Linked DNA regions of Homo sapiens: all the other regions are linked to region 4. Evidence: fine-mapped expression QTL. A gene starts in region 4. Each other region holds a variant in brackets. All regions are shown on one strand. Distances are from middle to middle. Region 1 overlaps CASP8 (caspase 8). Region 2 overlaps HYCC2 (hyccin PI4KA lipid kinase complex subunit 2). Region 3 overlaps HYCC2 (hyccin PI4KA lipid kinase complex subunit 2). Region 4 holds the start of PPIL3 (peptidylprolyl isomerase like 3).

What was found. PIP is the estimated chance that this variant, and not a neighbour inherited with it, causes the effect. A credible set is the group of variants that fine-mapping cannot tell apart.
Region 1: its variant is the best candidate, but not a certain one, in a credible set for the expression of PPIL3 in stomach (GTEx, PIP 0.66).
Region 2: its variant is the best candidate, but not a certain one, in a credible set for the expression of PPIL3 in fibroblasts (GTEx, PIP 0.69).
Region 3: its variant is the best candidate, but not a certain one, in a credible set for the expression of PPIL3 in uterus (GTEx, PIP 0.51).

Annotation. Positions count from the first base shown.
Region 1 is chr2:201,261,628-201,264,391 of GRCh38, forward strand. All of the region lies in intron 1 of CASP8 (caspase 8), which reads left to right. Among named protein-coding and RNA genes, the nearest start is that of CASP8, 2.5 kb to the left of the region's middle. The variant G/A (reference allele first, on the strand shown) is at 1,472.
Region 2 is chr2:200,997,416-200,999,915 of GRCh38, forward strand. It overlaps HYCC2 (hyccin PI4KA lipid kinase complex subunit 2), which reads right to left. Exons shown (of 13, transcript NM_001321623.1): 8 at 30-125. All of the region lies in intron 1 of LOC105373835 (a long non-coding RNA gene), which reads left to right. Among named protein-coding and RNA genes, the nearest start is that of ORC2, 35 kb to the left of the region's middle. The variant C/T (reference allele first, on the strand shown) is at 1,162.
Region 3 is chr2:201,057,494-201,060,257 of GRCh38, forward strand. The region is part of intron 1 of HYCC2 (hyccin PI4KA lipid kinase complex subunit 2); the gene reads right to left. Among named protein-coding and RNA genes, the nearest start is that of HYCC2, 13 kb to the right of the region's middle. The variant C/T (reference allele first, on the strand shown) is at 1,419.
Region 4 is chr2:200,887,867-200,890,366 of GRCh38, forward strand. It overlaps PPIL3 (peptidylprolyl isomerase like 3), which reads right to left and starts at 1,211. Exons shown (of 7, transcript NM_130906.3): 1 at 1,090-1,211. NIF3L1 (NGG1 interacting factor 3 like 1) reads left to right here and starts at 1,505. Exons shown (of 7, transcript NM_001369441.2): 1 at 1,505-1,786. RefSeq lists enhancers at 291-1,035, 729-778, 847-2,046, 899-1,148, 1,036-1,780 and 1 more.

The DNA of each region.
Region 1 (2,764 bases), 370 kb after region 4:
GCGTGCAGAATGGATGTCTGTCAGGTTCCGGGGCAGCCCGCAGTCTGAGGCAGCCAGCCTGGATTGGAGGGAGTGGCAATACTACCTGCCGGTTAGGGGTTTGGGCCTGAGAGCGAGTGGCTTTCAGGTTCTCTCAAGCTTCGGATGAGATGCAGGTTTCTGCTTCCGATGGCAAATGCATGTTTTGCTTTTTAGTTATCACTGCAAGAGCTAGGATGCTGCTAGAATATTACTGGAATGATTGTGATGAGATGGAATGTATTTACAGTTTAATTGTGACATGTAATACAGTGGTAGAATGGGACTCTGGAATGAGATGCTGGGGCCTAGATTCTAGCACTTCCTTTGTGAGGCTCTAACCCCCTCTCCTATAGTGGATTTGTTAAGAACTTCTGTTTTTGTGGCTTTGTTATTATAAAATTTTTTGAAATGTTGTTCTCTAAAAAAGTTATGATTTTATGTTTTTCTTCATGAGATTCTTTCACTGCCTTCCAGCTGCAAGTAGAATGACGTCTAAATCTTTGTGATCTGTCACTGAAGCCCTTGAGTGAGACACTTAAATCTGGCTGTGGCTCTCTCTCTTACTAGCTTATTTCCAAGCCGTGATTTTTCACAACAGAAAAATGGGGACAGTAATAGTAGTTTCTTCAGAGGCTTTTAGTGAAATGAGGTTAAAAAATATTTTTATGTTTATATGGATATATAGATTACAAACATTTATATATCATTTATTTATATGATTATTATAAACACATATTTATATTTAAATACTTTGGGGCATAAATATATAAAATAATAAATATACTTATGTAATACAAATAGACTTATATACATTTACTATTTAGCAGAGATTATATAAAATATATGTATTACATGGCAACATATTCAAATTTACATATGTTATATATACATGTGGAAAAAAAATTGGGAAAAGGCCACAAAATGTGACCAAAGAATTACTTCCAAATGGCAAGTTTTTAAGTAATTTTTATTTTCTTTTTATACTTCTCTGTACTTTCTCTATGAAACAAGTGTTACTTTTACTGTTTTTAGGAACCAAAAATACAAGTACATTGTTTAAAAAATACTAGCTTAACAAAGTTTCTAGCCCATAAGCTAGTGCAGAAAATCTAGGTCCCATAAAACAAGAACTGCCACACGATGTCTCTCCCCTTACAGTGCTGGATGGCCCGTTGTTAATGGTGTCATAAATCCTTTGCAAGTGACTGTTTTCTAGGTACTATGACTAGAGGGATGTGTAACTTAAGCAAAAAACAAAAAACAGAAAAGGCTGACTATCATCTGACAGTGTATCCTGGAACACCTAGGCCAGAGAAGAAGCCACGTTAGCATTTTCCCTTCTAAATGTCAGTTATGATTTGATGGGGAAACCACTTAAAAAGCATTGTCACGTTGTTGAAAAGGTAATGAAATGAGTGAGATGAGATGGCTATGGAGGACGGAGCTATGC[G/A]CCAATCTTATTATATCCAAATTCATGTCATCTCAGCCTTGGATTGTATTGATTTTTATTATATACTGTCAGAAAATGCTATTGAATGTGTAACAAGAGCCTCAAAAAGGTTTATTCATTTTGACACCATAATACTACTTTTAGGAAATTATTCTAAGAAAATAATTAGAGGTATTCTTAAAGATTTGCGTTTTAAAGTCATCCTAAATGTAATCAGGAACTGGCTATGTAAATTATAGCCCATCTCTAAGATTAAGTGCCTTACAGATATTAAAACCCATGCTGTAGAAGAAAAACTAAAGACAGGAAAGTACTTACAATACAAGATGTACTTACCAGTGGAAAAATCCACTTATACTACAGAAATATGATGTGTTCAAATATAAGGAAAAATGTGTATGCATAAAATATTTGGTAGGAAAGAGTAAAATATTACTGGGCATTTATATTTGGATGGTGGAATTATACATAATTTTAATTTTCCTTTTTATCTTTTCTGTATTGTCTAAAATGAATACACTAAGCATTGTTATCCTCAGAAAAAAATAATTGAGGGATGGGGGAAAGGAAGTCCTGCTTTCATTTGATTCTTTGGTTGGTTTTATTCTGTAAGATGAGACTTTAACAGAGGTTAGAATGCATTAAAAATTGTAAAGACAGTTGACCTAATGGCACTAAACAGGGTTAGATCTAGTTTAGATCTTTTCCAGCATGTGAATAAGAATGGATCTTTAAATAAAGATTTTAACTAGGTATATGTTTTAGAATAAGTCATACATGTACATGGTAAAAATTCAAACAGTACAAACTGTGCAGCAAGGTATGGGAAATAAAGCAGCTCTCACTGTCACCTCCACCCATCAGCCTTCTCACACTGCACGCCCACATCTGTGTGTAATTCTGCTTTTCTTTAACATTACTGAAGGAACTTCCTGTGCATTTTTTGTCAGAGCTCTTCTGTGAATACACAAAATATGTACTGATCAATACATTATGTAGATCACGCAGGCTCAACCACATTGATCTTCCTATTCTTTCTAGTAGCCAAATAGAGTTCCCTGGAATATGATTAATAGCTTGCCTAAATCTTCTAATGCTGATAAACAGTTGTTTCTGCTCTTTCGTTATTTCAAGGAATGCTACCATGAATAGCCTTATATATGGTTTTGAGTATACTTGTTTAAGTGAATGTAGGAAAAACTCTTGGAAGTTAAATTGTGGGCCAGTTTATGTGAATTTTATATTTTGACAGAGATGGCTAAATTACCCACCTGTTTTTTTGTTTTGTTTTGG
Region 2 (2,500 bases), 110 kb after region 4:
TGAAGATTAGTAATAATCACTCTTCTCACCTGGAACCCATCCGACAAAGAGATTGGTAAGATGAGGCAGGCATATATACAATAGCAGAATTATAACACAGCATGAGAAAACTCAGGACTTCAAACCTAAAAACAACAAATGCAAGGTTAAAAGGATTACAAATAATTACTTCTACTAGCAACTGGTTATGACAATGCCTTAATATTGACCTTTATGATTTCTTAATCAAATCAATATAGCATCTTCCTCAAAGGTTTCCCTGTTTATATTCTCCTTATTACAAATCATAACCCTTGCTGTCATCTTGTCATCTATATTTCCGTTTTTAAAAAATAAATCAGGCCAGGTGCAGGGGCTCATGCCTGTAATCCCAGCACTTTGGGAGGCCGAAGTGGGTGGATCACAAGGTCAGAAGATCGAGACCATCCTGGCTAACACGGTGAAACCCCGTCTCTATTAAAAATACAAAAATTAGGCAGGTGTGGTGGCACATGCCTGTAGTCCCAGCTACTCAGAAGGCTGAGGCAGGAGAATTGCTTGAACCCGGGAGGCGGAGGTTGCAGTGAGCCGAGACTGTGCCACTGCACTCCAGCCCGGGCAACAGAGTGAGACTCCATCTCAAAAAATCAATCAATCAATCAATCATGCTTGAACAGATGACTCCCCTATGAATAAGTCTACCATCTTCCTACTGACTTCATAATAAAATCCAAACTTATCACAAGGTCCTTTAAAATCAAAGTCCTTCTTACAAGGTACTTTAAAATCCACCCTCATCCTTCCTCTCCAGCCTTATTTCTCTCCATTACCAACCACATATACCACACTTTATCAATCTTCTTACCATTCCAACAATATGCTGTAACCATTCAGAATCCCTTGCTTTAATGCTTGCTGCTCCTTCTTAATAGAATATGCTTTTTTACTTGGGTGATTCCTGATAAGATTTCAAGTCCTAGATCAAATTTTTACCTTAGCCATAAAGCCCTTCTTAATTCTCTCTGCTAAAGTAAACCAGTCCCTTACCTCTGTAGCTCTAACATAGCATTTATCCCACTGAATTGTAATTTTACGCCTCTATGTCTCTTTCACCCGTTTAGTAATAAAGCAACTTTAGAACAGAGATCCTGATTTATTAATCTCTATCATTGGTGTCCAGCA[C/T]GGTGTCTAATACATAATTGTTTAATAAATACTTGTTGAATGAATAAATAAATGCTTTCCTAACATTTATAATGTCTAAGAAAGTGGCTCCTAAATCTGGATGCACATTAGTTATTTAGAGACCTTTTTAAAAACATACACTTCTATGTCTTAACCCAGTTGACCCACTTAAATCCTCGGGTAGGAACTAGGGAAGTTGTACCTCTAAAAAGCTTCCCATAGATGAATGGTGAAGGGTTTATGGAAACTCTTTGTACTATTTTAGCAATGTTTTTTGTAAGTCTGAAGTTATTTCAAAATGAAAAGTTAAAAATCAAGCTGAAAGTCTGATCTGGAAGCAGCCATACTTTCAGATCCCTTCACTTTCTCCATATATCTAGGTAAAAGAATGGAGATTTATTCTCTGAAAGGATAAAAACTAATTTCTACCTGGGAGCCCTAGCTGTGATGGGGGTGGATGCCAAACTGAAAATAGGAAGATTAAGTGAAGTGAAATATACCTGCCTAGATATTGCCAGTTTGCCACCAAAATACTAGCAAAAAGATCTCTAGTTAAGATACCAGAAGAGTTGTTTCTAGGGAATTTGACCACTCTAAGAAGAAAGACTTAAAGATATGGACTTGGGAAATTTTCCAAATGAATGGCCTAGTGGGATCCTATGGTGAAGTTTATAGTCAGTTACTAAGTTGGTGCAAAACTTTAAAAAAAATTTTTTAAATGGCAAAACCACAATAACTTTTGCACCAATACTAGCTCAAATCAGCCATATATTAACATGGTCAGAGCTTCTCATTTTTTATTCCCTCTCCCCACTTTTTTTTTTTTGAGACAGAGTCTCGGTCTTGTCACCCAGGCTGAAGTATAATGGCATGATCTCGGCTCACTGCAACCTCCGCCTCCCAGGTTCAAGCCATTCTCTTGCCTCAGCCTCCCAAGTAGCTGGGATTACAGGTGCCCACCACTACACTTGGCTAATTTTTTTTTGTATTTTTAGTAGCGACAGGGTTTCACTATTTTGGCCAGGCTGGTCTCGAACTCCTGACCTCAGGTGATCTGCCTGCCTCGGCCTCCCAAAGTGCTGGGATTACAGGCGTGAGCCACCGCACCCAGCCTATTCCCCTATTCTTAAACATGAGGGAAAAAAGGTTGCCAGACATCTAAGGAACTCTACTAGGATGAAAAAGAGACTATAAAGAAATAGAAGGGCTGGGCGCAGTGGCTCACATCTGTAATCCCAGCACATTGGGAGGCCGAGGCGGATCATACAGTCAGGAGTTCGAGACCAGCCTGGCCAACATAGTGAAACCCCATCTCTACTAAAAATACAAAAATTAGCTG
Region 3 (2,764 bases), 170 kb after region 4:
GGAAACAAATCTCTCTTTTTCAAATTTTAAGCCTTTATTTGAAGGTTGGTTGTTACCACTACATAACCAAGTAATCCTGACTACAATGGTTGTAATGAGGTTAGAGCAGGCTCCAAAAGCACAAATAAGCTAGAAGAACAAATGGCTGAGACACCCATGGCACTTACTTCTACTAATCAACTCTTCCTTAATCTATGGCCTTGTAGAGTTCCCTAAGATCAAAGGAAAGAAGGAAAAAAAAAAACTTAGGCCTGGTTTATACATGGTTGCATACAGTCTGCTGGCATTGACCTTACAGAGAAGTAGCCCTACAGGACAGGAGAAAGGGAACTCCCAGTAGGCAAAACTTCAAACAGTATCTCGTTGTTCACTATACCTGAAGAGACCAAAGATATGGATCTATCGGTTTGGCTAAATGGCCTTTGTAACCAGTATTTGCTCAACAGGCACGTGAACAAAATGGTCTTGTCAGCAAGAATAGAAATTATACCCTGGCTCAACACAGACTTCCCCTCACCAATGCTGATCTACAATTTCACAATATGCCAGGCTGTCTCACACCTCACACATTTTCTTATGCTACATTCCTCTCTGGAATGCCTTTCAACTACCCTCTATCCTAACTACCCTCCCCTTCTTCCAACACTCAGACCAACAGTTGCCTCCTCTATGAATCTTTTCCATAGCATACAACCCTGCATCAATTCAAAGCCCTCTCCTTCCTCTTCACACAGAAGTTCTCAACATAGCGTCCACAGACCCCCAGGGATCTATAATAAAACTCATAAACTTTGATAAGAAGAAAATTGTATCACTTTTTACCAATCTCTAACTAACATTTATAATGTCATTAGATTGTGAGTATAGGCAAAACAATAAAACAACCAGCCATAATATTTTTGTGATTTGGTCACCAATAGAAATCACAGGTATTAGGCCCAGCACAGCGGCTCACGCCTGTAATCCCAGCACTTTGGGAAGCCAAGGCGGGTGGATCGCTTGAGGTCAGGAGACCAGCCTGGCCAACATGGTGAAACCCCGTCTCTACTAAAAATACAAAATTAGCCAGGCATCGTGGCGCATGCCTGTAGTCCCAGCTACCCAGGAAGGTGAAGCATGAGAATCACCTGAACCTGGGAGGTGGAGGTTGCAGTAATCCAAGATTGCACCATTGGCCTCCAGCCTGGGAAACAGGGCCAGACCCCATCTCAAGAAAAAAAAAGAAATCACAGAAATTTTCATATCGAATTACATTTGTTTCTTATCACTATGTCATGACACTTTTCTCTGGTCAGAGAGCTTCCATTCTACCCTGGATAAAAATGTTTCCAATCTCATCTCCATATATTTAGCTAAACATTTTTCTGGGTGTTTCCATATGAGATTAACATTTAAATCTATAGACTGAGTAAAGCAGA[C/T]TGCCTTTCCTAATGTGGTGGATGTCATTTAATCAGTGGAAAGCCTGAACAGACAAAAAGGCTAAGCCTCCCCCAAGTAGAGAGTCAGTTCCTCCTGCCTAAGGACATTGGCTTTCTCCAGCCTTCAAACTCAAACTGAAACATTAGCTCTTCAGAGTCTCAAGCCTGAGTGACTGCTACTATGTTATCTCTGGTTCTCAGGACTTTGGACTGTGTCTGACTGGAACTATACAGTCAGGTCTCCTGAGTCTCCAGCTTGCCAACTACCCTGCAGATCTCGGGACTTGTCAGCCTCCTAAATTGTGTAAGCCAATTCCTATAATAAACCTTATAATAAATCACACACAACCTTATTGGTTCTGTTTCTCTGGAAAACCCTGATGAATATAGTTCCTGACTTGTTCAGAATGACCTAAGGATATATGCAGAATCCATCTCTTATACCTCTCAGAACAGGAATCCAAGTTATAGATGGGAATGCCTGGCCCTGGTATCAGGCATTCCATTACCATGTCTTCTTCAGTAGAACAGGGGCATATAAGTGAGATTGGTGGCTAGGCAGATACCCAACCAAAGAGCAAATGTAAATCTCTCTTCTTAATGACAGAGAGTGACTCTTTCAGGACCTCCTTATCTTGACTTTTGGGAAGGAAAAAACCCTTTCCTTTCCCCTCACAGAGCAGGGAATAGTTTCTTTCCATTAATACTCCCCTTCCAAAGAAGGCCTCTCCCCTTCTCCCTCTTAAGCCTCATAAATTGATGGGGTGGGCAGAATCATAGTCACAACAGCCCATAGTACTCAACATCTTATGTTGTCAAAGACCTGTGTGCAGGTTGAAGAGCCCTCTTATTGACTGGGTGCAGTGGCTCATGCCTGTAATCCTCGCACTTTGGGAGGCCGAGGCGGGTGGATCACCTGAGGTCAAAAGTTGAAGACCAGCCTGGCCAACATGGTGAAACCCCGTCTCTACTAAAAATACAAAAATTAGCCAGCGTAGTGGCACATGCCTGTAATCCCAGCTACTTGGGAGGCTGAGGTGGAGAATCACTTGAACCCGGGAGGCGGAGGTTGCAGTGAGCCGAGATTGCGCCACTGCTCTCCAGCCTAGGCAACAACAGCAAAACTCTGTCTAAAAAAAAAGCGGGGGGGGGGGGGTTCTTCTTACTAAACCACAACTTTTCTGGGGCAGGGAGTATGCCTCACTTGCATTTGCATTTCCGGTTCTTAACAGGACCTAGTACATAGTTAGCACTTAATTCATGTCTATTGAATGAAGAGCTTAACAGCACTACTAGGCGGTCAGCAGCAGATACAGTATAGAAGATAAGGAGCAAGTATGTCAAAG
Region 4 (2,500 bases):
GCCAACATGGCGAAACCCCGTCTCTACTAAAAACACAAAAATTAGCCGGGTGTGGTGGCAGGCGCCTGTAGTCCTAGCTACTCAGCAGGCTGCGGCAGGAGAATCACTTGAACCCAGGAGGCGGAGGCTGCAGTGAGCTGAGATCGCGCCACTGCACTCCAGCCTGGGTGACAGCGCGAGACTCCGTCAAAAAAAAAAAAAAAAAAAATCCTCTAATGGCATCCCCTAGGTAATAAAAACCCGGCTATAGAAGATATCCTACCCGATTCAAGCCTCCCAATCTCCTACTTGCCCGGCTTGCTCTTCTTCAAGAGCCTCCTTGCAAGTCCCCCAATAACCCAGATACCTTCCCTTAGGGTCCAGGCATTGGGTGTCCCTTTTGCCTGGAATTCTTATACTCAGACATCTCTACGGCTAATTTCCTCACCTCCAAATTTCTGCTTAAATGTCAAGTTTAACTGACCTGACAATCCTACACAGAACTGCTTTAGCCCTTCAGCCCTAGGACATTCCTATTTCCTTCTCCCACAGCACTTATCACTAATATACTATGAAATTCGCTTTTTTTTTTTTTCACCACAGCACTTATACTAATATACTATGAACTTTTTTTTTTCCACCACAGCACTTATCACTAATATACTATGAACTTCTCTTTTTTTTTCATTTTGAGACGGAGTCTCGCTATGTCGCCAGGCTGGAGTGCAGTGCGGCAGGATCTCGGCTCACTGCAACCTCCGCCTCCGCCTCCCGGGTTCAAGTGATTGTCGTGTCTCAGCCTCCCGAGTAGGTGGGACTACAGGCGCGCGCTACCATGCACGACTAATTTTTGTATTTTTAGTAGAGACGGGGTTTCGCCGTGTTGGCCAGGCTGGTCTCGAACTCCTGACTTCAGGTGATCCGCCCGCCTCGGCCTCCCGAAGTGCTGGGAGGCCGCCGTGCAGGGTCCTTCTTTTACTCTGACGTTGCAACAACAGCCTCGCCGCCCACTGTTCACTCGCAGTATCCCAAGAACTAAACCAGTAGCAACACAGAACTCAGCAAGCATTCGAATAAGTGAATGAAAGAATTAATGACGTTACTCCATACTTGGGCTTCACCACTTCGTCTAGCACAGCCGTTGTTAAAACAGGAAAAATGCAATCGCAGATGCCAGCAGAGGTCTGTTGGTTCAAAATTATAGTTTCTTTGGGCCAGCGGAAGTTGGGCGCGGGACCCAAGAGAGAGAACGCCCCTTACCGCCTCACCTCCTTCCTCCCCTCATCTTCCTATCTCAAACCAAAACGACAATGCAATTTATCCCCAACCGGAAATTTGACAGTGAAAGGGAGCTCTACTAATAATTGCACTGGGACAAGAAGTGTAAGGCGAAACTACCTGGGCAACCTCAAGCAATGCTTTACACTCGGCTGCCAAACGGAAAGGACCACTTCCGCCCAGCTCTCCCGCTACGGGGAGCCAAGTGCCACAGCATCCGGAGCGCCGACGCGGGACCGGAAGTGACGCAGAGAAGTTTCCGGGACTGGTGAGTAGTGGGCGATTTAAAAACCCGCGAGTGTAGTTGTGACCTTCGCGGTAGGTGCCGGTTGGGGCCGGCTGTGATTGTTATCTTGGTGCTGCAGAGGACAGCAGAAGAGGAGATTGGGTCAGAAAACTGCCCTGCCGCACCAGAGCACAGCGCACTAGTGGGACAGGGGTCCTGACTCAGACTTAACTGGCTGTGTCTCGTGGTTTTTCACTGTCCTGGAAAAGGCCTGAAGTGGCACTGAAATGAGGCATAGATGAGGTAACGTCGAGGGAGCGGTTTGCAGGTTGCAAAGGGGCCCTACTGATGCTGCTTAATAGTAAACAGTGCTTACTCTAGGACGGGAGTTGTTTCCAGCTTTACGTGTAAATCTCGCGATATTGTGGCCTGGGCACTATTTCCATTAAGGAGGAAACTGCACAGGATAAGTCATTTACCTGCTGTTGCACAGCTCTGGCTCTAGGATTCAGGCTGGCTTCAGAGTCGGTGCTCTTAACCGCCATACTATGTTGCCTTCTGTTGTCGTTGTTGACTGTGGCCATGTAGCTTCGCAGTTTCCTCATCTGTAACAGTAAATAACTCAAAACCTGCATGATGGCCCACTAGGGTTTCACTTTCGAGCTTGCCAGATGTAGAAAATGCTGGAGAATGGAGTACTATGAGGACCATTAGAAGATCTTTCAAGGCCGGACGCAGTGGCTCACCCCTGTAATCCCGGTACTCTTGGAGGCCGAGGCAGGTGGATCACTTGAGCGCAGGAGTTTGAGACCAGCCTGGGCAACATGGCGAATCCCCATCTCTACTAAAAATACAAAAATTAGCCAGGTGTGGTGTTTAGCGCCTGTAGTCCCAGCTGCTCAGGAGGCTGAGGTGGGAGGATCTGCTTGAGCTCAGGAAGTCGAGGCTGCAGTGAGCTGAGATCACGCCACTGCACTCCAGCCTAGGCGCCTAGTGAAACCCTGTGTCAAAAAGAAA